2 separate regions of the Homo sapiens genome follow, and region 2 is linked to region 1. The links come from fine-mapping of genetic effects on gene expression. Tissue or cell type: lymphoblastoid cells. Region 1 holds a variant in brackets; the other region holds the start of a gene. All regions are shown on one strand. Distances are from middle to middle. Region 1 has its middle 70 kb from the start of CAAP1. Region 2 holds the start of LRRC19 (leucine rich repeat containing 19).

Evidence for each region. PIP is the estimated chance that this variant, and not a neighbour inherited with it, causes the effect. A credible set is the group of variants that fine-mapping cannot tell apart.
Region 2: LRRC19 starts here. The variant in region 1 is the best candidate, but not a certain one, in a credible set for the expression of LRRC19 in lymphoblastoid cells (GENCORD, PIP 0.80).

Annotation. Positions count from the first base shown.
Region 1 is chr9:26,814,134-26,830,607 of GRCh38, reverse strand. No RefSeq gene overlaps it. Among named protein-coding and RNA genes, the nearest start is that of CAAP1, 70 kb to the left of the region's middle. The variant G/T (reference allele first, on the strand shown) is at 7,886.
Region 2 is chr9:26,999,257-27,015,730 of GRCh38, reverse strand. It overlaps LRRC19 (leucine rich repeat containing 19), which reads left to right and starts at 10,059. Exons shown (of 5, transcript NM_022901.3): 1 at 10,059-10,139; 2 at 16,028-16,117. The coding sequence starts at 16,037. It overlaps IFT74 (intraflagellar transport 74), which reads right to left. Exons shown (of 20, transcript NM_025103.4): 9 at 6,573-6,711; 10 at 3,763-3,825.

The DNA.
Region 1 (16,474 bases):
GATTTATTGCAAAGAGCAAAAGAACAAAGCTTTCACGGTGTGGAAGGGGACCCGAATGGGTTGCCACTGCTGGCTTGGGTGGCCAGCTTTTTTGGCCACTTCCACATCCTGCTGATTGGTCCGTTTTACAGAGCGCTGATTGGTCCATTTTACAGAGTGCCGATTGGTCTGTTTACAAACCTTTAGCTAGATACAGAGCGCTGATTGGTGCATTTTTACAGAGTGCTGATTGGTGCATTTACAAACCTTTAGCTAGACACAGAGCGCTGATTGGTGCGTTTTTACAGAGTATGGATTGGTGCGTTTACAAACCTTTCAGCTAGACACAGAGCACTGACTGGTGCGTTTCCAAACCTTTAGCTAGACAGAAAAGTTCTCCAAGTCCCCGCTCGACCCAGAAAACCAGCTGGTTTCACCTCTCAATCCCCCCTCTAAACAGGACACCCCAACTGCTGTTGGGAATTGGGCAATGACTGTTCTAGCTAATTCCTGCTGGATAGGGGCAAAGAACGGGCCCTGCCGTTGTAGTGTCCTCCAGAGGGGAACTCTTTAGGGTTCCATTTGTAAGACCATCTGTAGCTTGATGGCCTCGATTCTAGAGGAAACAAATTTAACAAGGAGGTTAAAAATACAGGGTCTGAAGGCAAGTAATAGCAAGATGGCTGCCATGGGACGTAGAAAGGGGAGAAGCCATGTTGCCCAACTCCAGAGGTTGGTATAAGAGTCTGAAAGCCATTGTCTGATTTCAGAAGCCTTTTCCTGTAAATGCCGGTTGGCATCTCATACTATCCCTGACTGGTTAGTGTAAAAACAACACTCTTCCCCTAAGAAGGTGCAGAGTCCTCCTTTCTCAGCAATGAGGAGGTCTAGGCCTCAGCAGTTTTGGAGAGTCACTGCAGCCAAAGAGTCTATTTGGGATTGTAATTACTATCCTTACTGGATAGATTTCGTTATTTCTTGCAAACTGTCTGAGAAATCCTTTGAGAGTGTGTGGTAGTAGGATAATGCATATTACCCTGTTAACTTAGCAAAATTTACTTTAGTTGAAAACCTTGTAAGTTGGGGATTTTAATTTTTCTTTGCTATTAATAAAACCTCATTCAGTCCTATTAACTTAGAATTGGTATAGATGGCTCCTTCCTGATTCTGTAAGTACTTTAAGATTTGGCTGAGTGCAAACAGTTTGAGCAGACCGGTTATTAGGCAATTTTCCTAACTGCTTATCACTTACGGAATACCCATTGTGTCTTTTTCCCTTAATCGCCTGGAGGAACTATCTATCCTCCTGTCCTGAAGAGAGTTCCTCCTAGATCTGGTTGGACCTTTGTGTGGTAATTAATTAAGATTTAGATCCCATGTTAGGAAACCTGCTGGGTTAAGGATTTTTGATAAGAAGACTATGGGTTGTCAGTGGCCTCAGTGCTTTCAGGCTACGCCCTTGTTTACACTGACAACAAAGTGGTATTGGAGTGTTATAGGGTTACAGAGAAGACCTTTAATTATCAATTATAGGTTTTAAATTTACCCTGGCTTTTAAAGGAATGGGGTACACTGTTTTTTCTTTACTACTTCTATATCTCTCATTCTCTCACTTTGACTTCTTCTTTGTATCTCTCTTTCTCTCTGACTCCCTTTTTGTCTCTTCCTCTCTCTGTCTCTCTCTTTGACTCCTTCTTTGTCTCTGTCTCTTCCTCTCTCTCTTTGACTTTCTGTCTCTCTCTCTGACTCCTTCTTTGTCTCTTCCTCTCTCTCTCTTGTTCTGACTTTCTGTCTCTTTCTCTCTTTCCTTTGTGCTGGCCTTTTCCTGCCTCTGCCAGCCACTTATGCAGCTGTTCTCCCCTCTCCTTCCCCTTTTTGATGGCTTCGGCAGTGTAAGACTGCCACCTCCTTGGGTTTTTGCACTGCATGCAATAACTCCATGATTTCCTTGTGGTATTTAATGGGGGTTCCCCCAAAGTTTAGGAACTCCCTTTCTTTCTGTATTGCAGCATGGGCATGTAGGATTATATAAGCATACTTGCTATCTGTATACCCATTTATTCTTCTTCCCTTTCTCAGTTCTAAGCCTTGGGTAAGTGCCACTATTTCTGCTAACTGGGCGCTGGTTCCTGGGGGAAGAGGCTTACTTTCAAGTACGGTTACATCACTAACTATGGAATAACCTGCCCTTTGCATCACACTCTCCACAAACAAACCTCCATCGGCATATAGGTTAAGGTCAGGATTAGCCAAGGGGACTTCCAAGAGATCATCTCGGGCGGCATAAGTCTGGACTACAACCTGTTGGCAGCCATGCTTGACCGGCTCCCCATCCTCTGGGAGAAAAGTAGCAGGGTTGAGGGCAGCACACGTACGCACTTGAAGCACCAGTCCCTCAAGGAGTAGTGCCTGGTATCTAAGCAGGCGGTTGTCTGACAGCCATAAACTTCCTTTGGCACTTAGTATGCCATTTACATCATGAGTAGTCCAGACAGTGAGATCCTTTCCTTGTATTATTTTGATTGCTTTTAACACTAAGACAGCCACCGCCACAACTACCCATAAACAGTGAGGCCAGCCTTTTGCTACTGTATCAGTTTCCTTACTTAGATATGCCACTGGTTGTGGGGTTGTCCCATGAGTCTGAGTAAGGACTCCAAGAGCTATCCCTGCTCTCTCTGTGACGTATAAAGAGAAGTTTTGTCCTGTGGGAAGGCTTAAAGCTGGAGCTTGTACTAGGGCCTGCTTTAAGGTTTCGAAGGCTGTTTCTGCCTCTGGTTCCCATTCTACTAGATGAGTATTTGCCCTCTGGGTCTCCTTGATTAGAGTAGAGAGGGACCTGGCTATCTCACTGTATCTGGGGATCCATAGTCATAGGCAAAAGCTGGTGATTCCAAGGAACCTCCGCAACTGTTTTAATGTCTTAGGGCAAGGATAAGCCAGTATAGGCTGTATTGGTTCCTTGCTGAGGGCCCTGGTCCCTCTGGCTAAGATTAGGCCTAGATATTTGACCAGCTGTAGGCAAAGCTGGGCCTTCGACCTAGACGCCTTGTACCCTTGATTAGCTAGAAAGTTGAAGAGATCTAGAGTAGCCTGCTGGCATGAGGCTTCCAAACTGGTAGCCAAAAGTAAATCATCCACATACTGAAGGACCAGAGTGCCTGGACTTGAGAAGTGGCCTAGATATTGGGCCAGTGCCTGACCAAACAGGTGAGGGCTATCCCAATACCCTTGGGGCAAGACCGTCCATGTAAGTTGGGAGGTGTGGTCTGTGGGATCCTCAAAGGCAAAGAAAAACTGGGAGTCAGAGTGCAGGGGAATACAGAAGAAGGCCTCCTTGAGGTCCAGAACAGTGAACCATTCTGCGTCCTCTGGTATTTGAGAGAGCAGGGTATAGGGGTTGGGTACAACTGGATATAGAGGAATTACTGCCTCATTGAGGAGTCTAAGATCTTGCACTAGTCTCCACTGACCATTTGGTTTTTGTACTCCTAGAATTGGGGTGTTGCAAGGACTGCTGCATTTCCTTACTAAGACTTGAGCTTTTACATGTTTAATAATATCCTATAATCCTTTATGAGCTTCAGGCCTTAAGGGATATTGCCTTTGATAAAGAAAAGTGGTGGGATCTTTTAGCCTGATTTGGACTGGGTGGGCAATTGTTGGCCTTCCAAATTGTCCTTCCAATGCCCAGACTTCAGGGTTTATTCCCTCCTCAAGTAGGGGACAACAAATGGGTAACTTGTTTCCCATATTCATGTACATAATAGCTCCAGCTTTGGCTAATATATCCCTCCCTAATAAGGGTGTGGGACTTTCAGGCATAACGACAAAGGCATGTGAAAAGAGCAAAGTCTCGCAATTACAACTGAGGAGGTGGGAGAAACACCTGGTTACAGGCTGTCCCAGGATTCCTCAGATGGTAATGGACCTTGAGGACAGTCATCCAGGACAGGAGATTAACACTGAGAAGGCCATGCCAGTGTCCAGGAGGAAGTCAATTTCCTGGCCCTCAATGGTTAAACGTACCTGGGGCTCAGTGAGGGTGATGACATGAGCTGGCCCTTGCCCCGGGCACCCTCAGTCCTGTTGTTGGATCATCTGGTTGGGGGCTTCTGGCCCAGAGAACCTTTGCCCTCTGGGGCAGTGTGCCTTCCATTGATTGCCTCAGCACAGGGGACATGGATGACGGGGTGGCTTGTTTCTTGTTGGACCATCTTTTTTAAAGTGTCCTTGTAAACCACACTGATAACAAGCCCTACCAGGTGATTGGCCTGCTCCATTTTCTGTCCTCTCTGAACCACCAAGGTTTGTTTGTCTGAGGGCCATGACTAAGGCTGTGGCCTTTCTCTGATCTTGCTTTTCCTTTTGGGCCTGTTCCTCTTGGTCCCTATTATAGAACACCAAGGTTGCCAGGTTTAATAATGCCTCCAGATTTTGTTCAGGGCCCAGGGCTTGTTTTTGGAGCTTTCTCCTGATATCTGCGGTTGATTGGGTAATAAACTTATCTTTTAGGATCAATTGACCCTCGAGGGAGTCGGGTCACAGGGGAGTATATTTCCTTAAGTCCTCCCGTAGCCGCTCGAGGAAGGCGGAACGATTTTCTATATCACAACTAGCTCTTTCTCCTTAGTGTGGAATTCTGTCCTAGAAGGGAGTCCTGGCTGGTCAGTTTCTGGAGTTCTTAGGGGTTACACTGTTCCGGCTCTGTTCAGACCTTATTATTTCTTGCATTCTTATTAGAGACAAAACCTATCCTAATTGGCTTTCCTTTGCTTTCTTCCACAGAAATGCTGATATTATGAAGGTTTTATGACTTGTTAGTGGCCTGCTCTAATAATAAATAATAATTTATATTATGGAGTTCATGAGAATATCATAGGAATGTAGTCTTAACTTATGATGGTTCAACTTAGAATTTTTTGATTTTATATTGGTGCAAAAGCAACACATTCAGTAGAAACTGTACTTTGAATACCCATACAACTATTCTAGTTTTTACTTTCAGTACAGAATTTAGTAAATTACATGAGATATTCAACACTTTTATTATAAAATAGGCTTTGTGTTAGATTATTATGCCCAATTGCAGGATAACGTAAGTGTTCTGAGCATGTTTAAGGTAGGCAGGGCTAAGCTATGATGTTTGGTAGGTTAGATGTATTAAATGCATTTTTGGCTGGGTGCAGTGGCTCACACCTGTAATCCCAGCACTTTGGGAGGCTAAGGCGGGCAGATCATCTGAGGTTAGGAGTTCTTCTTGACCAGCCTGGCCAACATGGTGAAACCCCGTCTCTACTAAAACATATACAAAAATTAGCTGGTCGCGGTGATGGGCACCTGTAATCCCAGCTACTCAGGAGGCTGAGGCAGGAGAATCGCTTGAACCCGGGAGGCAGAGGTTGCAGTGAGCCAAGATCACACCACTGCACTCCAGCCTGGGCAACAAGAGTGAAACTCTGTCTCAAAAAAAAAAAAAAAAAAAAGTATTAAATGCATTTTTGACTTATGCTATTTCAACTTATGATGGGTTTTATAGGACATACTTATAATATGTCCTTATAATAACATCTATACTTAGCTTGAAATGTTTTGGTTTTTCTTTCTATTGCTTTGCCTGTTTTATGTGGGGATTTAAAGAGATTGAAAAACTCTACTTTTGCTTCCCAAGATACAACTATGTTTTCATTTTAAAATATGCATTCAATTTTCTTTGTATACAAATTATAATCCAGTATTTTATATCACGGAGAACTAATTTATGTAAAATATATTACTGAATATTTACAAAGTCAAAATTATTTTGTTAATTTTGATGTTATTCAAGCTTTTTTTTTTTAATTTTAAAATCAAAGCTTGTTTGTTATTTGACAGAAGCAACTGTTAGCCTGAAGGTAAAACAAGTTAGCACTGCTTCTTAATAGCAAAGGAATTTAGTTGTATTAGGTGTATTGTTATAATAGATAGTTATTGTCAGTTGAAAAACCTGTTTTATCATAAAATTGAGTCATTTATATAAAAATAAAATGGTACAACTATAGATTTAAAAAGATCAAAAATTTAATAGTTTTAATTTTTTAAAGGAGAAGAATAGAATTTAATGTGTTACTTTTGAAAGATAACTTGCTTCCTTTGAACAATTCATATTTGTTCATTACTCTTCTATTTTAGCATTATCCTTTCTGCTTGGGACTTTTTTTTTTCAAATTCCAGGGAAGAACTAGAAGTTTTGGTAACTGATTTGTTTTCCCCTCTAAATACATTTGACCATAGCATTTTTGTTTTTTAAGAGATAGGGTCTCACTCTGTTGCCCAAGCTGCACTGCTCTCTGTGATATGGACAGGAAGCAGGGAAATACTGGGTAGAAGAGGGTGGTCCCAGCGAGGGCCACACCCTTAAGCCTGTGGCCCATAGTGAGAACATAAATTCCTGTCTTCCAGCTTGAATGTTGCTTTTTGGCCTGCCCCACACCCCATCCTGTACCCATAAAAACCCTAGGCTCCACTGGCAGAGGGACAGGGTGGCAGAGTGGAGAGGCAGAGGAAGAGAGAAGAGAAGAAGCAGCCAGATGTCAGAGAGAAGCAGCTTGACTTCAGCAGGACAGCTTGACAGTGGGACTTCAAAAGAGTTTGGCCAGGGAGAGCTGAACTCTAGGGGAAGACTACATTCCCACTCCATCCCTGTTCCAGCTCCCCACCTCACTGAGAGCCACTTCCACTGCTCACTAAAATCCTCCACATTCACCAACCCTCAGATCATTTGTGTAACCTGATTCTTCCTAGATGCCAGACGAGAACTTGGGTACAAGAGGGTGGGTGCAAAAGGCTGTCACCCTGACCCTTCACTGAGTTGTTTAACACTTAAGCTGTCCATGGAAGGCAAAACTAAAAGAGCACACTCTTTTAGTAATACATACCCTCTGGAGGTCCAGGGGCATCACAGGTACCCCCCTAGACACTGCCATGGGGCCACACAGAGTTCTACTCCTGCCGGTGTCCAGAAGCACTTGTACGGGCCCCCGCACCCACTCAGCTGCGTGCTTCCCCTCCTATGAGGGGTTGAGAGCCGTGGGCTGAGTAAACTAGCCAACCCCAAAGGGGTTAAGGGAACTATCCCATTTCAACTGCAGCCTCGAACTTCTTGGCTTAAGGATCCCTCCACCTCAGTCTCCCAAATAGCTAGGACTGCAGGCAGGCACCACCACACCCAGCTGATTTTTATTTTTTTATAGAGATGGGGTCTTCCTATGTTGCCCAGGCTGAAGTCTTGGCCTCAAGCAATCCTCTTACCTTGGCCTCCCAAAGTGCTAGGATTACAGGCTTGAGCCACCATGCCTGGTCCGACATAGGATTTTTAATAAGATTCTGTCGTTAGTGTGATTTTTAAAAATCACCAAATTGGCCAGGCACGGTGGCTCAAGCCCGTAATCCCAGCACTTTGGGAAGCCGAGACGGGCGGATTACGAGGTCAGGAGATTGAGACCATCCTAGCTAACACGGTGAAACCCCGTCTCTACTAAAAATACTAAAAATTAGCCGAGCGTGGTGGCGGGCGCCTGTAGTCCCAGCTACTGGCGAGGTTGAGGCAGGAGAATGGCGTGAATCCGGGAGGTGAAGCTTGCAGTGGAGCCGAGAAAAAGTGCTAATTAAGCTACCTTATTTATGCCAAATTTAAAAGTTAAAATTCTGCATTTGGGGGGTCAGGTTTCATGTTTTATAGTTCTTGCTATTCGCATTAAAATATGTAACATAATACTTATACATTCTAAAGCCTGTAAAATGGTTTTTGCTGTGCACTAGTTAATCAAACTGCTGCTATAATCACAGAAAGAACCAAAGACTATAACTGTAAATACCATATGCTTGTGAAAATATGGAGGACAACCAATAACTAATTATCTTTGGG[G/T]TTTTTTTAAGTACTTTTTTTTGTTGTTTTTTTGTTTTTTGTTTTTGAGATGGAGTTTCAGTCTTGTTGCCCAGGTTAGAGTGCAATGGAACGATCTCGGCTCACTGCAACCTCTGCCTGCTGGGTTCAAGCGATTCTCCTGCCTCAGCCTCCCAAGTAGCTGGGATTATGGGCATGTGCCACCACTCCGGGCTAATTTTTTATATTTTTAGTGGAAATGGGGTTTCTCCATGTTGGTTAGGCTGGTCTTGATCTCCTGACCTCAGGTGATCCACCTGCCTCAGCCTCCCAAAGTGTTGGGATTACAGGCGTGAGCCACCATGTCCGGCCAAGTACATGTTTATATAATTAACTATTCTCTTTAAATATACCTTACGATGTCGTCTTTTCCCATCTAATCAGTAGTTGGAAAATCTTTATCAGAATTAAAAAATCTGTTTTGTCAGGATGTGAATTTCAACCAATTTGGCAAAAATCAGTCTTATATAACTTATGGCTTTCCGAGTTGAGTAAATGAAATCAATATTCCCAGTTTTAGAACATATTTACATCAACATATAACTATAAGAACTGGTTTTCATGTCTCCGCCTGTAAATTAATGTCAGTTGAATTTTCAAAAGCTTTTAGTGAAGAATAGGCATTTCATTGAAGGTTATTTTTGAATCCTCAAAATTAACTTTTATTAAGTGCATTGATGTGGAATTTAGGAACTCTTAAATAGTAGCTCCTCCTGAGAGTATCTAAATTTGTAAGGCATCAAGGAGTGTGGTGCATGCCTGCAGTCCCAGCTACATGGGAGGCTGAAGTGGGAGGATCACCTGAGCCTGGGAGGTTGAGGCTGCAGTGGGCCATGATGGTGCCACTGCACCCCAGCCTGGGTGACAGAGTGAGACCCTATCTAAAAAGAAAAAAAAAATGACAGTCTCAATATTCTAGAGTTGTATGTTAACTATGGTTGCTCATTCTTCAAGCTCAGAGGATGTTGAAGGTGTGGGAGAGAGTGCTGGGAGATGTGCATAGGAAGTACATGCAACAGGGAGAAATGACGTCTGGCAATGAAAGAAGTGACAGAGCTATAGTTACATGGTTCTTGAAGCCTATTTAGTGCAAGGGCAAATAATAACACACTCAGGAGTTTTTGCTTGCTCTAAATATCGCAGTACTATATGATAATTGATGTTTCTAATCATGAGTCAGTCTGCAAGAAATGGGGTTCATGTGCAGTTGTGTGCAAATAAGCTTTGCAAAAAACAGATATTTTGATGTAGGAAGACTATATGGGCAGCTTCTGTTCTTGACTTATTGGTTAAATGAGGCATTATCTTTAGGCAACTATTTGAAAACACAGTGTTATATTCACTTAACATTTACTTTGAGTCCTGGTTGTAGTCAAACTCTAAATTTGCTGGAAATGCTAGAAATGGTGTAATTTCTGTTCACTGAAACAATAGAATAAAGGAAATGGACTTGTGCACTCTGTGGTAGATTGCCACTTAATGTCATTTGAAGCATAAGATATGTTGATTACTGAAAGCTAAAATTAGCCCCACAACTAGTAGGCTGTGTTTGACACTTTAAAGGTATACACTTGATGAAGAACATAATTAGGGATAACAGGCTTTTATGCTTGGCAGAGGTAGGCGTCACATTTTATTAACATACATTGCTTAATATTACTCTCTTGACAGATTCTCCAAATACAATTTTTTTTTCCCATGGCAATATGAGCCACTATGTCTGTGAGTCAATATGAACAAGATTTTTTTTTATGGTTGATTGCCATTGAATGATGTAAACCTTGTGGTATTATCAAAGTGAAATATCATATACTTTGGGTGTAACAAGTATGCGTTTTGTAACATGTTGAAGAGTTCAATTACACTATAGTTAACAAATTGAGGCCAGGCGCGGTGGCTCATGCCTGTAATCCCAGCACTTTGGGAGGCTGAGGCAGGCGGATCACAAGGTCAGGAGATCGAGACCATCGTGGCTAACACGGTGAAACCCTGTCTCTACTAAAAAATACAAAAAATTAGCCAGGCGTGGTGGCGGGCGTCTGTAGTCCCAGCTGCTCGGGAGGCTGAGGCAGGAGAATGGCGTGAACCTGGGAGGCGGAGCTTGCAGTGAGCCGAGATCGCGCCACTGCACTCCAGCCTGGGCGACAAAGCAAGACTCCGTCTCAAAAAAAAAAAAGTAAAAAGAAATTGAACTTTTTATTAGCTGTGAGTTTGCTGTCTCAGTCTTCCTCGCAATTCTATGCAGAATTGCAATGGAAACTTTCTCTGAATGCCTTGTTTAAAATTGTTGTGTTTGTGTATTATCTTGATAGGTCCAAAATTATATTTTCACAATGATCCCTGTAAACATTTAAACTTAACTAGTAAAAGCAGTGAATAATCTTTGTTGCAGAGTGTTCAATAAACAAACAATACTTCAGTAAAATAATAGAAACAATAAACTTAGAATTTTTTTAATGTTTTAAAATTGTGTCTCTTTTTAAAAGATGGGGTGGGAGAGAAGAGTGATCTTTAGATTTTTATAAAATTGAAGTAACAGCATGTGCTGACAAGTAATAAATAACAGGGCCAGGCGCAGTGTCTCATGTCTGTAATCTCAACGCTTTGGGAGGCCGAGGCGGGCAGATCATCTGAGGTCAGGAATTCGAGAGCAGCCTGGCCAACATGGCGAAACTCCATCTCTACAAAAAATACAAAAACTAGCTGGGCATGATGGGACGTGCTGGTAATCCCAGCTACTCGGGAGGCTGAGGCAGGAGAACTGCTTGAACCCAGGAGGCAGAGGTCGCAGTGAGCCAAGATTACGCCACTGCACTCCAGCCTGGGCAACACAGCAAGACTCCATCTGAGAAAAAAAAAAAGTAAACAGAGATTCAAAGTGGCTAAATAAATTGGTTTCCATTCATCTTTTGTTTTTCATTGCCATCAGGCTAAGTGACAGTTTCTCTTTTCAGCCTACAGGAAAAATATTTGGTAGTGTAACAATCCTGTTTCTATTCCTGCAGTAGGAGCTCTGTTACCTTCTGTAGGAGCTGCATTTTAAAGTATTTAAATACAATAATTCAGTCTACATTTGGTTGCTCATTTACCTAAAACTTTGTGAAGTTATAAGTGCTCAGTGTCTGTGGTGCTTTACGGTATTTCTGGTAGAATTGTTTCCTTCCTAATTTTTCTTTGACCCATGGGTTATTTAGAAGTTTCTTTCTTTCTTTCTTTCTTTCTTTCTTTCTTTCTTTCTTTCTTTCTTTCTTTCTTTCTTTCTTTCTTTCTTTCTTTCTTTCTTTCTTTTTCTCTCTCTCTCTCTCTCTCTCTCTCTCTCTTTCTTTCTTTCTTTCCTTCCTTCTTTCTTTTCTTTCTTTCGACACGGAGTCTTGCTCTGTCACCCAGGCTGGAGTGCAGTGGCACGATCTCCGCTCACTGCAAGCTCCGCCTCCTGGGTTCATGTCATTCTCCTGCCTCAGCCTCCCAAATAGCTGGGACTACAGGTGCCTGCCAGCACGCCCGGCTAATTTTTTATATTTTTAGTAGAGACGGGGTTTCACCGTGTTAGCCAGGATGGTCTCGATCTCCTGACCTCGTGATCTGCCCACCTCAGCCTCCCAAAGTGCTGGGATTATAGGCGTGAGCCACCGTGCCTGGCCAGAAGTATGTTTTAGTTTCCTAATATTTGGAGACTTTTCTAGGGATCTTCTGTTATACTGATTTTTTATTTCATTCCATTGTAGTCAGGAAATACTTTGTTTGACTTGAATCTTTTAAAATTTATTGAGATTTGTTATTATTGCCTAAAATATGGTCTATGTTGGTAAGCGTTCCATGAACACTTAAAAAAAACAAAACAAAACAGATGTATTCTGGGCCGGGCATGGCGGCTCACGCCTGTAATCCCAGCACTTTGGGAGGGCTAGGCAGGCGGATCACGAGGTCAGGAGTTCGAGACCATCCTGGCTAACATGGTGACACCCTGTCTCTACTAAAAATACAAAAAATTAGCTGGGCATGGCGGTGGGCCCCTGTAGTCCCAGCTACTCGGGAGGCTGAGGCAGGAGAATGGCGTGAACCCGGAAGGCAGAGCTTGCAGTGAGCCGATATTGTGCCACTGCACTCCAGCCTGGGTGACAGAGCGAGACTCCGTCTCAAAAAAAAAAAAAAAAAAAGACATATTCTGGTATTATCAGGTGGAGCGTTATGTAAACATCAGTTAAGTCAATTTGGTTGACAGTGTTGTTCAAATCTTCATATGATCTTATTTTCTGTTTATGTCTTCTGTACTTACTGAAAGAAAGCATACTTTGTGTTGATGCATAACAAATTACCTCAAATTGGGCTTCAAAGAGCACACATTTATTATCTCTGCTCCTATGAATCAAGAATTGGGATGGTTTAACTGAGTCCTCTGCTCAGAGTCTAGAAGATGGCAATCAGGGTGTCAGCTGAGTTCGCTCTTGTTGCCAAGGCTAGAGTGCAATGGCGTGATCTTGGCTCACTGCAGCCTCTGCCTCCTGGATTCAAGTGATTCTCCTGCCTCAGCCTCCCAGGTAGCTGAGATTACAGTCTCCCACCACCACACCTGGCTAATTTTTTGTGTTTTAGTAGACACGGCGTTTGGTCATGTTGGCCAGGCTGGTCTGGAACTCCTGGCCTCAAGTGATCCACCCACCTCCGCCTCCCAAAGTACTGGGATTACGGTTGTGAGCCGCAGTGTCTGGCCTTATTTTTTATCTTATTTATTTATGTATTTATTTTCGAGATGATCTCACCCTGTTGCCCAGGCTGTATAGTGGTATGATCTTGGCTCACTACAACCTCCATATCCTGGGTGCAAGCAATTATCCCACCTCCCAAGTAAATGGAACTACAGGTGTGCACCACCATGCTCGGCTAATTTTTCTATTTTTGTAGAGATGGTTTTTTGCCATGTTACCCAGGCTGGTCCCTAATGCCTGAGCTCAAGCTGTTCACCCACCTCAGTCTTTAAAAGTGCTGATATTATAGGCGTGAGCCACTGTGCCCAGCCAACTACTGCTTTCTTTTGATTAATGTTAGTATCTTTTGATTAGTGTTTTGCTTTCTGTTGATTAGTGTTAGTATGGTATATGTTTTCTAACCTTTATTTTAACTCCATTTGTGTCTTATATAGATGATCCCCAACCGTGGTTCAACTTAGGAATTTTTGACTTTGCTATGATGTTAAACTGTTGCAATTTTGACATATTATACAGTATTAAATAAATTACATGAAATATTCAAAACTTTATTATAAAATAAGCTTTGTGTTAGATGATTTTCCCAACTATAGGCTAATGTAACTGTTCTGGCCATGCTTAAGGTAGTCTAGGCTAAAGTATGATGTTTGGTAGGTTAGGTGTATTGAATGCATTTTTTACATATAATATCCTCAACTTACAATGGGTTTATCAGGGCGTAGCCCCATGGTAAATTGAGGAGTATCTGTATTTAAATTAAGTTTCTTGTAGTTGGCATATGGTTGGGTCTTCTATTTTTTAATCTAATATTAGTCTCTACCATTTAATTAGGATATTTTGGCAATTTATATTTTTAAATTTTTCTTTACTTATTAAAAATAAATAGTATTTGTACATAGTACATCATTTGTAACACTCTCTTTCTAGATATATTCCACAATGTATTTCTATCATTTATTTTGACAGCTTTGTTAATATGTCATTCACATAGCATAAAGTTTACCCTTTAAAAATGTACAATTCAGTGGTTTTTACAGAGTTATGCACCCATCAATACTAATTGCAGAACATTTTAATCACCACAAAATCATCATCATCATACCCATTAGCAGATACCCTCCAGGCCCAACTTCCCCCAGCCCATGGCAACCACTAATATACTTTTTGTCTGTCTGGATTTGCCTATTCCTCATATTTCATATAAATTGAATCACACAATAAGTACCATTTTTTCTGGCTTCTTTATTTTCATCCTTCATCCATGTTATCACACTTAATTCCTTTTAATGGTCAAATAATGTTCCTTTTATACAGATATACTATGTTTTATTTATCCATTCATGAGATGGCTGATTATTGTGTTTTCACTTTTTGGTTCTTATGAATAATGCTGCTACAAACAATCATGTGCAAATTTTTGTGTAGACACATATTTTTATTTCTCTTAGGTATTTACCTAAAAGTGGAACTGATGGGTCATATGGTAACTGTGTGTTTAACTTCTTGAGAAACTGGAAAACTGCTTTCCAATTAGCTGCACCGTTTGACATTCCCACCAGCAATATATCAAGATTCAAGTTTCCTTGCCAACACTCGTTATTGTCTGCCTTTTTCATTTGATACTTTAAAGATATTGCTCCACTGTGTTTCCATTAAGATATCTCTGTCATCACTGTTTCTCTGTATATAACATGACTTTTTATAGGACTATATCACCAGTTTTGAACAATTTTATTGCAATGTGAACTCATGTTTCTTGTGATTGGGAGTTAATTGGAATTCTTGGATTTGTGCATTTATCATTTTTAACACATTTGGAAAGTTTTTGGCCATCATTTCTACAAATATTTTTCTATTGCCCCGTTCTTCCTTTGGGGACTCTAGTAACATATACATATATATGTTATCATATATGAAGAAAGACTAATAACATATATATATGTTATTACATATGAAGATTATATATATGTTACATACTATATATACATATATATAGTATGTAATCTTTCTTCATATGTGTATATACAGTATGTACATTTTATATATATATATATAATGTACTTAAAGTTTTTACCATAGTTCAATGATGCTCTGTTTATTTTATTTTTTTAATTATCTTTCTGTCTTTTAAGCTCATTAATCTTTTATTCTGCAATTAATCCCATCCTTGGCATTAATCCCACCTAATACATTTCTCATTATACATTGTAATGGTTTCATTTTAAGAAGTTTGATACGCATTTTTTTTTATTTGAGATGAAATCTTGCTCTTGTTCCCCAGGCTGGAGTGCAATGGTGTGATCTCGGCTCACTGCAACCTCCACCTCCTGGGTTCGAGTGATTCTCCTGCCTCAGCCTCCTGAGTAGCTGGGATTACAGGCACCTGCCACCATGCCCAGCTAATTTTTGTATTTTTAGTAGAGACGGGGTTTCACCGTGTTGGCCAAGCTCGTCTTGAACTCCTGACCTCAGGTGATCTTCCCGCCTCAGCCTCCCAAAGTGCTGGGATTACAGGCATGAGCCACCGCGCCCGGCCTGATATGCATTTTTATATCTTTCATGCTTTAACTTTTTGAGCATATAGAAAACAGTTACAATAACTGTTTTTTTAAAGTCTTTGTCTCCTAATTCTAGCAACTCTGTTAGTTCTGGGTTATTTTCAATTAATTAGTTTTTCTCCATGATGAGTCATATATTGCCATTTCTTTACAGATCTGGCAATTTTGATTGAATGTCACACATTGTGGATTTTAGTTTGTTGGGTGCTGAATATTTTTATTCCTATAAATAGTCTTAAGCTTTTTTACTGAGATACAGTTAAGTTGCTTGTAAATAGTTTGATTCTTTCCATTCTTGTGTTTAAGATTTATTAAGCAGGACTGCTATGTGCTCATCTAGGGCGAATTATCCCCCACTACTGATAAAATACCCTTCTTTGTCCTTAACTCAGTGCCGTTTGTAGGACTCAAAAGGCATTCCACTGTCTTCTGGGCTTCATAGTTTCTGATAACAAGTCCATGTTATTTGAATTGTTGTTCCTTTGTATGTAATGTGTCATTTTTCTTTGGCTACCTTCAAAACTTTTCCTTTGTCTTTTGTTTTAAGTAGTTTCACCTTGATGTGCCTTATCATGATTTTCTTTGTATTTAATCTTTCTTCATATGTATATACACAGTATATATATTCATTCTTCTTCTTCAGGACCCCAGTTACTTATATACTAGGCCTTTTGATATTGTCACACAGATCTCTGAAGCTTTTTTTTTAAGATCATTTTCCTCTCATGTTCAGATTGGATTATTTCCATTGCTCTATCTTCAAGCATGCTAATTCATTTCTGTTTTGTCCCAATTCTGCTATTAAGCCCATGTAGCAATTTAAAATTTTTTTGATACTATTGTGTTTTTTCAAATAACATCTCCATTTGGTGTTTTTTCAAATAACATCTCCATTGGTGTTTTACATATAAAATTTATATTTATATATTATATAAAATTTATATTTATATATTATATATTATATATAATTTATATACATATAATTATATATAAATATATAATTATATATAATATATAATTTATATACATATAATTATATATAAATATATAATTATATATAATATATATTAGGAGACAGGATCTTGCTCTGTCACCCAAGCTGTAGTACAGTGGTGTGATCATGGCTCACTGCAGCCCCAAACTTCTGGGTCCAAGCGATTCTCTTGCCTCAGCCTCCTCAGTAGCTAGGACTACAAGTGCACTCTACTGTGCCCAGCTAATTTTTAAATTTTTTTTGTAGATATGTGGCCTCACTATGTTGCCCAGGCTGGTCTTGAACTCCTGAGCTCAAGCAGTTTTCCTGCCTT
Region 2 (16,474 bases), 190 kb before region 1:
GACATAAGAGTTAACAGTGACATTTGAAACCGGACCTACAACTTGAACAAAATAAAATTCTTAGAAGGGAAGACCTCATTTTTTTTTCTTTTTTGAGATGGAATTTCGCTCTTTCACCCAGGCTGGAGTGCAGTGGTGCGATCTTGGCTCACTGCAAACTCCGCCTCCCAGGTTCAAGCGATTCTCCTGCCTCAGCCTCCCAAGTAGCTGGGATTATAGGCGCCTGCCACCACGCCCAGCTAATTTTTGTATTTTTAGTAGAGATGGGGTTTCACCATGTTGGCCATGCTGGTCTCAAAACTCCTGACCTCGTGATCCGCCCATCTCAGCCTCCCAAAGTGCTGGGATTACAGGTGTGAGCCACTGTGCCTGGCCAACCTCTTCTCTTCTAAAAGTATGAAAGAAGGAACCTCCAAAAAAGGAACGAGTAGACGAGATAATTTTTCAAAGTCCATAAGCAATGGATTATATATACAGTTCAAGTAACAGATTAGGCATCAGATAAGATTAAAAAAAGCCATGCTAAAAAGACATAGAAGAAATGCAGATATTTTATGCTATCCTTTTTCATAGTATCGTCTCCTTTTTGCCTAACAATCCTATAGATTTGTTTGAATTTCATCTTGATAAAATTGTTCTGGAAGACTTAAGCTCATGTTAATCCTTCACCTGATTTTTTCCACTCTTGTGAACTGAATAAGCATGACCTAATACGTTGTACAGCAGTGAACATAAAGTATTCAAAAAATACTAGTTGATTGACCACTATCTGACAGGTATTTTCTTGAAGAACAAGTCCTAAACAAATAAATAAAAGAAATCTGGGCTGGGCGTGATAGCTCACGCCTGTAATCTCAGCACTTTGGGAGGCCAAGGCGGGTGGATCACAAGGTCAGGAGTTCAAGACCAGCCTGGCCAACACAGTGAAACCCTGTCTCTACTAAAAATACAAAAATTAGCCGGGCATGGTGATGCACGCTTGTAATCCCACTACTCGGGAGGCTGAGGCAGGAGAATTGCTTGAACTCAGAAGGCGGAGGTTGCAGTGAGCCAAGACTGTGCCACTGCACTTTAGCCTGGGCAACAGAGCAAGACTCTGTCTCAAAAAAATTTTTTTTTTTAAAAAGAAAGAAATCTGGCAAAAGTTAAATAGAATTAGTGACATGTTATCTTAATTTGCACATATTGTGTATTTTTAAAACTCTTGTTATTTTAGGCATAAATGTACTGACATCAGAGAAGAACGGCATCAGTACAAAAAGTAAATCTAAGGTTATAGCTTATGATTTTTCCTATGGAAACCAAATTCACCAAGTGAAGTAAGACTTGACTCTCTCAAACCCACTCCAAAAAAGAACCATGAGGAATTCTGCAAGCTGGTTGTATTAATACTAAATGTGGTCCTTCTTTCTTTAAGCGTATTTCCATCACCAGAGATCCAAGGAAATAAAAATTAAGTGTCTTTATAGATGGACAACCAGACACAGAAAACTACCTGCTTTTTTTTTACTTTTTTTAGACAGAATCTTGCTCCGTCGCCCAGGCTGGAGTGCAGTGGCGTGATCTTGGCTCACTGCAAGCTCTGCCTCCTGGGTTCATGCCATTCTTCTGCCTCAGCCTCCCGAGCAGCTGGGACTACAGGTGCTTGCCACCATGCCCGACTAATTTTTTGTATTTTTAGTAAAGACGGGTTTTCACCACGTTAGCAAGGATGGTCTCGATCTCCTGACCTTGTGATCTGCCTGCCTTGGCCTCCCAAAGTGCTGGGATTACAGGCGTGAGCCACCACGCCCAGCCAACTACCTTACTATTTTTAATTAAATAACTTTTTCAATAGCAAATTCTCAAAAGAATTAATTACAAAATACTCATTTCTTTTGCAAGCTAGGGTGTCAGCAATCTATCAGTCTACAACAGTTCCTAATACTGTCATCATGATGTCTACCTGAATCCACAGGAAATCAGGAAAGGGAGGCAAGATTTGAGATACAGACAGTATACTGAAACGCCAAAAATATGAAAAAGGAGTTCAAAGAAAAAGAAATTCATTGGCCAAAAATGATATAAATAGATACTCAACTTTATTCATAAATAAATGAAAATTCAAATAAGGTAGTAATTTTTACCTATCAAAATAGCTAAAACTGGAAAAGTCAGATAATATTTGCTGTCAGTGAATGCAGGGGAAATAAGCATTCACATACATTACATCTAGAAGTAAAAGTTGGAACAACCTTTTTGAAGGCAATTTGGCAATCTGACAACATTTTTAAACTGTATACCTTTTGACCCATTGTGAGAATTCAATCTTATGATATAACTTCGCATAAAATGTATGCTTTCACAGGAGTATTGTTTATAATCCCGGAAAACTATAAACAACCTGTTCATTTACAAGGCTGTGTTATAATTATACAACATAATACATTGTAGCAATTTAAAATAATGAGGAGGTTCTCTAGGAACTGATATAAATAGACACTGTAGATACAATGTTAGGGTGAAAAAAGAAAGCTGCAGCTAGCATAGCACGTAGGAACCCCACTTGAGGTTTTCCACAACTGTAAAACCAAGATGGGATTTAGGACTCTTGTGGGGATTACATGAAGATGATGCTGATATGTGTTTACAGCTCAAAAAAGCATACAGTAAGCACTTGATAAATGTCTTTCCAGTAGTTCTATCTGGAAAGAAGGACACAAAACAGACATTTTGGCTGGGCGCAGTGGCTCACGCCTATAATCCCAGCACTTTGGGAGGCCGAGGTGGGCGGATCACAAGGTCAGGAGATCGAGACCATCCTGGCTAATACAGTGAAATCCCATCTCTACTAAAAATACAAAAAAATTAGCTGGGTGTGGTGGCGGGTGCCTGTAGTCCCAGCTACTCTGGAGGCTGAGGCAGGAGAATGGCGTGAACCTGGGAGGCGGAGCTTGCAGTGAGCCGAGATCGCACCACTGCACTCCAGCCTGGGCAACAGAGCGATACTCTGTCTAAAAAAAAAAAAAAAAAAAAAAAAAAACAGACATTTTTACTTTCCTCTTGTTCAACTATTTTTAAACCATATGCACATTTTGTTTTGTGAAATAAAGCGTTTTAAATAAATGAATAAAAAAAGTAAGTTTTTACATCCTTAAAGAGATGAACTCATGTCTCTCCCTCTTTCTTTGTTTTTATAATCTCTTGTGTATGTGTCTTTAAATTGCCATTAGAGGCTGAGCACAATGCCTCATGCCTGTAATCCCAGCACATTGGGAAGCCAAGGCAGGAGCATTGCTTGAGGCCAGGAGCTGTACATCAGCCATAACGAGACCCTGTCTTTACAAAAAGTAAAAAAAAAATTAGCCAGGTGTGGTGGTTCCTGCCTGAAGTCCTAGCTACTTGGGAACCTGAGGAGGGAGGATCGCTTGAGCCCAGGAGCTTGAATTTACAGTGAGCTACGATCATGTCACCGCACTCTAGCCTGAGTGACAAAGAAAGACTCTGTCTCTAAAAAAATAATTTTTTTAATTGCTATTGGATTTTGCATGTCCTAGGTAGGGCGGAATGATTTGTTTTATACATAGTAGGTACTCAATAACTGAATCTAATTTCTTACCATACTAGGATCTTTGTGGGTCCAGAATAGGAAGAAAAAGTATTAAACTCCTATTAGTAAGCTGCCAGATCAATATGTAGTTGAATTAGTTATATTAATATACTTGGCTGAATTAACTTTTTTAGCTGAGTAGTATGAGAACCCTTATTTGATTTTATACTTACTGCTTCCAGGCTCTCTTTTTTCATGTTCTGTGAATCCAATTGTTGTTGAAGTGTATCTAATTCCTAAGTGGAAAAAAAAAAGCAAACATAAATCCAAATTACATTAAGAATAATTTGTTGTAGTGGGGGGAGGGAGCTGGGAAAAAAAATTTATTTCTCTGTTTCTCAACATTTCAAAGTGACTAAGTAAATTTTCTAAATATCTTCACTGGCATCTTACATTTTGACTAGAATTTATTAACACTTCATTATTTCTATTTTTCCCAACTTCTTTCATTATTCTTAAAAACTTGCTGTGTGCCTTCAAAAAAAAAAAAAAAAAACTTCATGAGTTTCTCAAAAGTAGCTAGACCTTAGACCTTTTCACACTGAATCATCACTATGTTCTGAGACATCAAATATCAGAAGCTTTCAAATTATGTCATTGTTTAAGATTATTATTTAAAATTTTGATTTGTAACCGTGTTTTCACATCTTTTGCCTAATTTCTCTATACTGTGTACACACACATATAACACATGCACACATACATACACATATATGTAAATATAAATATGGTTCACATGTACACATACATACACGTATATGTAAATATAAATATGGTTCACTCCTAAGATAAGATCCTTAAACTGTTTACTCATTCATTATCCCATACAAGATTAACTATATTTTGGTACTATTTTGGCATTTCTATCATACTCTTTCTTTTTTCTTTTTGAGACAGAGTCTCGCTCTGTTGCCCAGGCTGGAGTGCAGTGGCATGATCTCGGCTCACTGCAACCTCCGCCTCCCGGGATCAACCAAGTACCTGCCTCAGCCTCCCGAGTAGCTGGGATTACAGGGGCCTGCTACCATGCCTGGCTAATTTTTGTGTTTTTAGTAGAGACAGGGTTTCACCATCTTGGCCAGGCCATACTTTTTCTTCAACGCTTCACAGTATCTTAGAAATCTTCTCTAAAATAAAAAGGTTACTAAATTGTCAGCAAAGGAATGTCTAAGAAACTAAAACTATAATCATTATTGGCATTTATGGGGCCTAATTCTTTGCTTAATCTTTAGTTAAGGGCCATCTGGGCATGAAAGGGAACCACCATGACTGAGTATTGAGAGGATTCTCAATATGCCCTCAACAGGGACTTAAATTGCTTATTTAATATTGCATGTTCTCACTCATCTGTAGGAGCCTAAAAAAGTGGATCTCGGCCGGGCACAGTGGCTCACGCCTGTAATACCAGCACTTTGGGAAGCCGAGGGGGGCGGATCACCTGGCTAACACGGTGAAACACTGTCTCTACTAAAAACACATAAAAAATTGGCCAGGCGTGGTGGCGGGCACCTGTGGTCCCAGCTACTCAGGAGGCTGAGGCAGGAGCATGGCATGAACCTGGGAGGCGGAGCTTCCAGTGAGCCGAGATCGCGCCACTGCACTCCAGCCCGGGCGACAGAGCGAAACTCCGTCTCAAAAAAAACAAAAAAAAAAAAACAAAAAAAAGGGGGTAGTAGAATGATGGTTACCAGAGGCTGAGAAGGTGGTGCCCAGTTGGGGGCATGGGGTGGTGTGGGGGAGAGAAGGAATAAATTCTCATGTTTGATAGAACACTAGGGTGGCTATAGTTATCAGTAATTAATTGTATGTTTCAAAATAGCCAGAAAAGGAGATTCAAAATGTTTCTAGCATAAGGCCGGGCGCGGTGGCTCATGCCTGTAATACCAGCACTTTGGGAGGCCGAGGCAGGCGGATCACGAGGTCAGGCGATCAAGACCATCCTGACTAACACGGTGAAACCCCGTCCCTACTAAAAAAATACAAAAAATCAGCCGGGCGTGGTGGCGGGCGCCTGTAGTGCCAACTACTTGGGAGGCTGAGGCAGGAGAATGGCATGAACCCGGGAGGCGTAGCTTGCAGTGAGCCGAGATGGGCACTGCACTCCAGCCTGGGCGACAGAGCGAGACTCCGTCTCAAAAAAAAAATTTTTTTTAAATTAAAAAAAAAAAAATGTTTCCAGCACAAAAAAAATGCCAAATGTTTGAGGTGATGAATATCCTAATTATCCCGATTTGATCATTATACATTGCATACGTGCATGGAAATATCACATGTACCCCATAAATATGTACAATTGTGTATCAATAAAAAAATTAATTTTTAAAAATGGAAATTTAGGCAATATAATTACAGGACAATAGCCATTCAAATCATAATGCTAACAGGTAAAAAGGTTAGCTGTTTATTAAGCAGGAAGGAAAAGGAAAGTAAATATATATATGGATCTGGTCTATGAGGCCTTTTTTTTTTTGAGACAGAGTCTCGCTCTGTTGCCCAGGCTGGAATGCAGTGGTGCAATCTCAGCTCACTACTGCAACCTCCACCTATGAGGCCTTTTAATGTTTGCATTAAAAGTCTGTAACTGCAAGTATTTACAGACTTTTTAATTTACAGACAAGTATTTTTATCAATGCAAACATTTATAGAAAAGTACTTTTATAAATGCAAATATTTATAGACAAGTATTTTTATAAATGCGAGTATTTTCATGTCTTTATGAAATGCAAAATGAATAAATAGAAGTAAACCAAAAATAATAAGAGTAAAAGCTAGGTCATCAAACAGCAGATGAAAATGAAGTTTTCTAAATAAATTCTTCTGAAATGTGAATATACGTATGAATCAGATGGGGACCTTGTTAAAATGAAAACTGATCTCAAAGTATAGTCAAGTTCTCAGGGGATGCTGATGCTGCTGATATTCAAACTATACTTTTAGTAGCAAGAATGATACATGCTTGGCACACAGCAGTAATTTGTATTACCTGTAACAGTTTCTCATTTGTGGTTTTCATCTCTAGGTACTTGACTTGGTTTTCAAAAGACATATTTTTGATAATGTCATCTGTTGCTTGTTTTTCCTGTTCAATTTCTTCTTCGACACTTCTGATTTGTTTTTCTTTCCTAAAATCAGAAGCACGTAATATTCCTGATACTATATTGAGGAAAAAATATCCAATTATTTTATACAAGTCATGGTCCTAATTTAATAGGATACTTAAAGACATTCAACCACAGTGTGTGACTGAAAAGTCTTTATATTTGTACTAAAAAATGCTATTTGACCTATATAAAATTTGGCCCCATTAGCACAAACTTATTTTTACATCTTTCTCTTCTCCATCCCTAAATTCCTCTATTTCCTTACTCTCCATTTTATTTTACTAAGAAATCACAAAGATTACCAAAAAATCCTTAATGACTTATATATATGAGGATGCATTTATACTTTTTTAAAGTTATACCTTCAAAAGACAAATAAGAGGCTGCGCTCGGTGGCTCACGTCTGTAATCCCAGCACTTTGGAAGGCTGAGGCAGGTGGATCACCTGAGGTCTGGAGGTCGAGACCAGCCTGGGCAACACGACAAAACACCCATCTCTACTAAAAGTACAAAAATTAGCCACACGTGGTGGCGGGCACCTGTAATCCCAGCTACTTGGGAGGCTGAGGCAGGAGAATCGCTTGAACCCAGTGGGGAAGAGGTTGCAGTGGGCTGAGATCGCGCCACTTCACTCTAGCCTGGGCAAAAGAGCAAAACTCCATCTCAAAAAAAAAAAAGACAAATAAGTTTTAGAATTGTGGTTTTAAAGCATCCTTTAGCCATAAGTTTTTCTGACTAAATTAAATACTGTATAGAAGTTTCCCGTGTAAATCATCCAGTGTGGCTCTGACAGAACTAGGGAGTAGAGAGGCCTGCAGTGCAATTTGATTTTTTAGTTATGGCTTTAGATTAATAATATGCTTTGCTTAAGTTCTCTTTTACTTACTGCTTTAGTTAACATTGCTATTTCACAAATTTTTGCTATTTTTTAGCATTGTAAAATATTAAGCTCATTTCTCTAAAAACACAATAAACATTACAAACATAATCCTATAAAAGTAGTAATAGTGAAATTAATTAGAAGCAATAACCATTTTTATCACGTAATCAAAAGAAATACCAATGACATGTCACTTGTTGCCTAGGCAAGGTCAATTATTGATAGGGTAGAGAAAAACTCTGAAAAAAGAATAGGTAAGATGCCACTTATCTAAATACTTTCAAGATTTACATTTTATAAAAAGCTGGATTGAACACACATTTTCACTCCCAAGATCATTAATTTCTATTTTGAGTTTCAAAATCTGATTAACCTATCACTATTTACTCTCTTTCGCTCATAGATACCAACTTCTATAGTTTTCACAATCACCAGCTAAGCTTGTGGATCCACATATCCCCTACACACCTTCTACACATTCATATCCTACTACTAGAATAAACAACCTAAACTCAGAAATTTCCCTACCAAAAAAAATCTCAAAATAACCAAATAAAAGATGAACATAGTAAAGCAACCTGGAATTTCAATTTATTTTTGTTTCACTGTTGGAGAAGAAGTGGTATCTTCACTTGGAGCTTCAATTACAACAGTAAAACAAATGTGTTTCCTGCTGCTACAATTTGTATAGGTATATGAGCTCAAAGAAATTGAAAGGAAAGTATCTATTTTCATAAATTAAGGATACTGAAGCCCAGTGGAATTAATCTTTTGGAAGGAATTCATTCTAAATTTGATTACTGACTACCAACAGTGTTTCTTCTTTCAATGTAGGAAGATGAGAACTAATGTTATAAAGTATTCCATTTTACAGAGGAGAAATTACAGCATAAGAAAAGTAACTGACTTTCTAAAGGCCATATGATGTCCAGGTGTAAGGTCTTTTTGATGCTTTGAGTACTTTGCTCCTGTTATAACTTGGCAGTAAAACCACTGATGATGGTGTCATAAAAGTAAGTAAACAGGCTGGGCATGGTGGCTCATGCCTGTAATCCCAGCACTTTAGGAGGCCGAGGCGGGCAGATCACGAGGTCAGGAGATCGAGACCATCCTTGCTAACATGGTGAAACCCCGTCTCTACTAAAAATACAAAAAAATTAGCTGGGCGTGATGGTGGGCGCCTGTAGTCCCAGCTACTTGGGAGGCTGAGGCAGGAGAATGGCGTCAACCCGGGAGGCAGAGCTTGCAGTGAGCCGAGACTGCGCCACTACACTCCAGCCTGGGTGACAGAGCGAGACTCCATCTCAAAAAAAAAAAAAAAAAAAAAAACACACAATAATAAGTAAACAAAAACGTTGAAACTCAATAGAATACAAAACTTGGTGGTATCTTTACAATTTGAATCCCTCCCTACCTCCTTTCTTTTCTCTCTCTCTCCTTTCCTTCCTTCCTTTTCCTCCCTCCCTGCCTCCTTCCCTTCCTCCTCCTCCTCCTTCCCCTCCCCCTCCTCTCTCTTCTCTTCTCTCTCTCTCTCTCTTTCCCTCTCCCTCTTTCTGTCTTTCTTTCTTGACAGGTACCACTTGTCACCCAGACTAGACTGTGGTAGCACAATCATGGCTCACTGCATGCTCAAACTCAAGCCATCCCCCCACCTCAGCCACCCAGGTAACTGGGACTAAAGGCACACAACACCATGCCCTGCTAATGTTTTTACTTTTTATTTTGAGTAGAGACAAGGTCTTGCTAAGTTGGCCGGGCTGGTCTCAAATTCCTGAGTTCAAATTATTCTCTCATCTTAGCTTCTCAAAGTGCTGGGATTACAGGTGTCAGACTCTGCACCTGACCTCAGTTTGAATGCTTCTAAGCACAAAATACCATCAGGACAAACATAAATTAATTTAGCAACAGTATATCTTTCAAAAGTATGCATTTTCAATATTGTAAACTCTAAATCAGTAAGTAAAATTGTTAATACTTTAATAAAATTTTCAAAGAGTAATTAAGAAACACAAAGGTAGGCTGGGTGCAGTGGCTCACACTTGTAATCCCAGCACTTTGGGAGGCTGAGGCAGGGGTATCACCTGAGGTCAGGAGTTTGAGACCAGCCTGGCCAACATGGTGAAACCGCATCTCTACTAAAAATACAAAAATTAGCCAGGTGCAGTGCCGGGAGCCTGTAATCCCAGCTACTCAGGAGGCTGAGGCAGGGAGGAGAACTGCTTGAACCCAGGAGGTGGAGGTTGCATTGAGCCGAGATCATGCCACTGCACTCCAGCCTGAATGACAGAGCGAGACTTCATCTCAAAAAAAGAAAAAAAAGAAAGAAACACAAAGGTTAGGCAAACAGCCTTACTTGTTATACTAAAAAAGGAAAAGATGACTTTAAGAAATTATTCTTCTAGTCAATCTTTTGCTAAGGAAGTCTAGTTTTTTTTTTTAAATCACCTGTTCACTGGGTACAAAGGTTAAAACAAAGTGAAATGTAATCATACGATGTACTTTTTTTAATGCCGTTGAAACAGAGTTAATTTCCTTTAGCACACAAGTCTTAGAGACAAAAGAAAAAAAGGTAAGATATGTATATTTATAGCTTTGGTTATTGTTGTATTTTTTTTAATCATATTTAAGTTTGTTAAGTCTGTACAACCATCTTTGCCTTTAAGAAGTGATGAAAAATAAGAAAATATGATTATATTTTCACATGGTCTACCTCAAAAATACTATATACCTGAGACATGGCCAAAGGGTCTTTCCTAAATAAAGTTAGAATACAATACTAAGTAATTGTTTTGCGGGGGGCGGGGGGGGAAATGGTTTCATCTAGCCAATCAAATTTATAAGAATTTTTATTTTAAAATATGTTAATCACAGAGCATTCTGAAGTGACACTAATCTAAAAGCCAATTGGCAAGATAAAAAAAAGACTGGCCATGAGTTGATGATTATTGAAGCAGGCTGATAACTATTCTTCTTACTTAGGTTTTTTCCTTGAAATTTTCCATTACAAAAAGGTTTTAAATCTGAAAAAAATCTACACAATAGTTAAATAAGGAAACAAAGTTAATTGTGTATTATTAACATCATTCTCTAAATACATTGAATTCTGGCATAAATATCTAAAATACTTAATGGAAAAACTACATTTAGATTTTAACAAAACCAAAATAATTACAGCATCTCTTTATTTCATAGCATATAATAATCATATAAAGTAAATAACTTAAGAAACATGTACTTGAAACTTTATTAAGAACAATGCTTCTTTTTCAGTATCTACCATTTCCTTTGAGTAAAGCTCTTTTTTTTTCAGTAACGTAGATCATATGCTAGGTAAAAATGCACGTAATTTTGTGAAATAACAAAAGAAACTGATATTCCATCTTCTATTCCAGTTTTCTATTTTATATTAGCTCCTAAGTAATCACTATATGAAACTCAACTATCATTTCAAAAAAAATCCAAATTAGAAAATATTCCAAAAGGAGAAAGAAAGCAACAATGACTGACTTCCTTTTAAACCAACTGTTGAAACAGGCTAAACTGACTGATGGATAATTTCTGCATAATCTACTTGGCCAGCTATTCTGCGTATCTGATTTTCTTTTTTTAAAGACACCCAATAATGCTAGCAAATGCTTTGTCTGGGGACTTACTCAGTGTCATGATAATCGACATCACCCCCTCTTTCAATCTTTCTCCTCTGAAAAGGCACACAAATATGTGAAAACTCTCACAGATAGTATGGATCAATCAATGTATTTCACAGCTTCAGACCTAACGATGCTTTAGATTTGTTGAATGCTTTCTTGTACAGAATCTACCTTGAGCTGAGTATACACTGCTTCCAAGATCTATCCAATGGAAAGGAAAAAAAATCCTTTTCTAATCCTTATGATTTTTTTCTTTTAGCGCACTTGAGAAAACAATTATTAGCATTAAATAGCAGATACAGATAATAAATATAAAACCATACTCCGTCTCCATTTCCACATAAGCTCACAGTCCTGTCTTGCCTCCATTACTTTTTTCACCTGCTTCTATTTCATATCAACTTTTAACTTAAATCTAGTTCATTTTCTTTGTAGCCTATTTGCTTTCTTTCACTATCCCCATCCTATTTGTTTCTGGAAAAAAAACAGCACTTCCCTTACCCACCTCTCCTCAGTCACCTCTGCAGCCTACTAGAGACATCAGTAAGAATTTCACCACATCATTGAGAAATACTGAAACAAGCCATTGAAGGAGCTGAACACCTATTCCTATAAATCATTAAACATAGGTAAACTACCTTTTGTAAATGATTTAGGCATCCCTCTTCTATGGGCAATCATCTTGAATAAGTGATAGTTTAAATGCACTTCTGGCTCTAAAAGGGATTCTATTATGATCTACATCCAAATTTTATAAAATATAGGAGGCAGAGTAGCTTTTCCTAACAAATTTCATTTAACTATGGAAAGAGAAAAGGTAGAAGGGGAATGTGCATAAATGGATCAACAAATCAAAGGCAATGAGGAAGTTGACTAGAACAGACTAGCACTAAAATAGCAGTAAATTCCTTATTGCTAACGAGGCGAGAGACTTTAGTATGCTGCATGGATTCTTGCCTACTCTGATTAGTTTTTCTTTTTTTTTTCTGAGACAGAGTCTCACTCTGTCACCCAGGCTGGAGCACAGTGGCATGATCACGGCTCACTGCAACTTCTGCCTCCCAGGTTCAAACAATTCTGCTGCCTCAGCCTCCCAAGTAGCTGGGATTACAGGTGCCTGCCACTGCACCCGGCTAATTTTTGTAATTGTAGTAGAGATGAGGTTTCGCCATGTTGGCCAGGCTGGTCTCAAACTCCTGACCTCAGGTGATCTGCCCGCCTCGGCCTCCCAAAGTGCTGGGATTACAGGCGTGAGCCACTGCACCTGGCAGACATGATCTTACACTTAAAAAATTAAAAAAAAAACAAACCCTAAATACTCCACAAAAAATCTGTAAAAACTGACAACTGAATTCAGTAAAGTTGCAAGATATAAAATCATCATATAAAAATTGGTAGAATTTAGATATGCCAACAGTGAAGAATCTGAAAAAGAAATCAAGAAAGCAAGCCTGTTTACGATAGCTACAAAGAATATAAAATACCTTGGAATCAATTTAACCAATGAAGTGAAATATCTATATAACAAAAACTGTAAAACACTGATGAAAGAAACTGAAGAGGATACAAAAAAAAATGGAAATATAATCCATGTTCATGGAGTGGAAGAACATTGCTAAAATATCAATACTAACCAAAGCAATTTACTGATTCAATGCAATTCCTATCAAAATACAGTGACGCTCTTCATAGAAGTAGAAAAAAAAATCCTAAAATTCATATGGAACCATAAAAGATCCCAAATAGCTAAAACAACCCTCAGCAAAAAGGAACAAAGCTGGAGGCATCACACTACCTGACTTCAAAATTTTCTACAAAGCTATAGTAACCAAATCAGCATGGTACTGGCATCAAGACAGATCCATAGACCAATGGAATGGAATAGAGAACTCAGATATAAATACACACATTTACATCAACTCATCTTCAACAAAGGTGCCAAGAACATAAAATGGAGAAATAATAGTTGTTTCAATAAATGGTGCTAGAAAAACTGCATAACTATATATGGAAAAATGAAACCAGACCCCTATCTCTTGCCATATCCAGGAATAAAAATGGATTAAAGACTTTAATAAGACCTCAAACTATAAAACTGTTTCAAGAAAACACTGGAGGGCTGACTCTCTTTTCGGACTCAGCCCACCTTCACCCAGGTGAAATAAACAGCCATGTTGCTCACACAAAGCCTGTTTGGTGGTCTCTTCACATGGACCCGCATGAAAGTGGCACATGCCTGTAGTCCCAGCTACTCAGGAGGCTGAGGCATGAGAATCACTTGAACCCAGGAGGCAGAGGTTGCAGTGAGCCAAAATGGCATCACTGCACTCCAGCCTGGGCAACAGAGCCAGACTCTGTCTCAAAAGAAAAAAAGATCTGGTTGTTTAAAAGTGTGTAGCTCCTCCCTCTGCTCTTTCTTCCTCCTTCTCTAGCCATGTAAGACATGCCTGCTTCCCCTTCACCTTCCACCATGATTGTAAGTTTCCTGAGGACCCCCCAGACGTGCATCCTGTACAGCCTGTGGAACTGAGTCAATTAAACCTCTTTTCTTTATTTAAAAAAAAAAAAGAGAAAAAAAGAAAACGTTGGAGAATTGCTCTAGAACACTGGCCTGGACAAAGATTTTTTTGTGTCTCTAAGACCTCAAAAGCACAGGAAACCAAAGCAAAAATGTACAAATGGGGTTTCGCCAAGCAAAAAAGCTTGTGCACAGCAAAGAAAATGATCAAAAAAGTGAAGAGACAACCCACGGAATGAGAAAATATTTGCAAACTACCCATCTAAAAAGGGGTTAATAATCAGAAGATATAAAGAGCTCAAACAGCTCACTAGCCAAAAACAAACCGATAAAAAACAAATAATCCAAGTAAACATGGCAAAAGAACTGAATAGATATTTCTCAAAAAACACACAAAAGACAAACAAGTATGTGGAAAAAATGCTCAACATCAGTAATCACTCAGGGAAATGCAAATCAAAACTACAATGATATATAATCTCACCCCCATTAAAGTAGCTTCTATCAATATGACAGGCAATAACGGATGCTGGTGACGATGTGGAGAAAGGGGAACCCTCATACACTCTTGGGAATGTAAATTAGTATAGCCACTCTGGAGAGCAGTATGAAGGTTCCTTAAAAAACTAAAAATATAACACTTACATTTACATTTGATCCAGTAATTCCACTGGGTATACATTTAAAAAAAAGAGATGAATATATTAAAGAGATAGCTGCACTCCCATGTGTATTGGAGGACTATTCACAAGAGCAAAACTATGGAATCAACCTAAGTGCCCATCAACAGATGAATGGATTAAAAAAAAGTAGCATATATATACAATGGAATATTATTCAGCCATAAAAACAAATGAAATCCTGTCATTTGCGGCAACAAAAACGGAACCGGAGGTCATTATGTCAAGTGAAATAAGCCAAGCACAGAAAGACAAATATCACACATTCTCACCGGCATGTGGGAGCTAAAAAAGTGGACCTCATATAGATTAAGAGTAGACTAGTGGTTACCAGAGGCTGGAAAGGGTGGTAGGGAGGGAGGAATGCAGAAAAGTTTATTAATGCATACAAACATACAGTTTGCTTAAAAAAAGAAGGCCTAGTGTTAGATCAGTAGGGTAATTATAGTTTACAGTAATTTTTTTCCTTCAACTTTTATTTTTAAGTTCCGGGGTACATGTGCAGGTTATGCAGGTTTGTTACATAGGTAAACATGTGCCACGGTGGTTTGCTGCACAGATCAACCCGTCACCTAGGTATTAAGCCCAGCATCCATTAGCTATTTTCTGATGCTCTCCCTCTCGTCTAATTTACTGTACATTTAAAAACAGCTAGAAGAGAATTTGAATGTTTCCATTATAAAGAAAAGACAAATATTTAACGTGTTGGATATCCCAAGTACATTAATTTGATCTTTAAAAATTATATGAATGCACTACTTTATCACATGTACCCCAAAACTATGTATATCTACCACGCCTCAATAAAATTTTTAAAAGTTACCATGGGGGGAAAAAGAGTGCTAAAGATTCTCATCTCCCACAGTTTTAAGTCAAGAATAATAGATAGATAATGCCAATAGATAATGCCTAAAATTGAAAAAATCAAGACCATCAATATAAGCATATACTTAAACATGCATAAATATACGTTTTCCTGAATTTCTTTTGTGCACTTCTATATTAAATTTTTAAAATTTACAACCACTTAAATTGCTTTAAAGCTCCTTTCATGAGATCTAGAAACTAATGAGACACACTTAAAAATATTAATTTTCTCTAAAAAGAAAAAATAGAAATCAGTCTCATTCTTCAAAGGGGCTTTCTAGTTTATTAAGATCAGAGTGCAAGGATGGTGAATGGCCATGCACTTGTTTCACATTTTATGTATTTCAAGAAAAAGTAGATTTGAAAGGCCAGGGTAAGTGGCTCATATCTATAATCCCAGCACTTTTCAAGGCCACGCCAGTGGCTGGGGGGAAATGGCTCGCACCCAGGAGTTTGATACCAGGCTGAGTAACACATGGTGACCCCATCTCTACAAAAATTTTTAAAATTAGCCAGGCATGGTAGTGCATGCTTGTGTTTCAGCTACTTAGGAAGCTGAGTTGGGAGGACTGCTTAAGCCTGGGAGATCAAGGCTGCAGTGAGCTGTGACCATGCCACCAGGTCTGTGTGACAGAGTGAGACCCTGTCTCAGCCAAAAAAAAAAAAAAAAAAAAAGAATAAACAGATTCAAAAGAGGGAAAAATAAAAATGTCCTTAATGAAAATACTCTCTTTTCTATCAGGTCTGCAACATGAAAGTCACAGGCATCACAATCCTCTTTTGGCCCCTCTCCATGATATTATTATCAGACAAAATCCAGTCTTCTAAAAGAGTAAGTTTTTACAATCAAAATAGTAAAAATATTTTCAAAGGTACATTTTCTGTATATTTAGTAAAATATAAAAGGGCAATAAGAAAGCAAAGAAAATCTGACCTACTAAAATTAAGAGTTTATTTAGCTCTGTATATCCAAATTCCAATTTGACAAAAGCAGCCTTCATTTATAAAAACTGAGTTCTTTAAAAGTTGATTAAAGGGAGAGATCTGAAAATTTTCACTATAAAATCAGAAATTAGTTTTAAGAGTAAAATCTTGTTTAAAATGTAGGAAACTTTTTTTTAAAAAGCACATATTTATGAGAGAAACTGCTATTGAATTATTATTGGTGAAAAAATCTAACTGCAAAAAC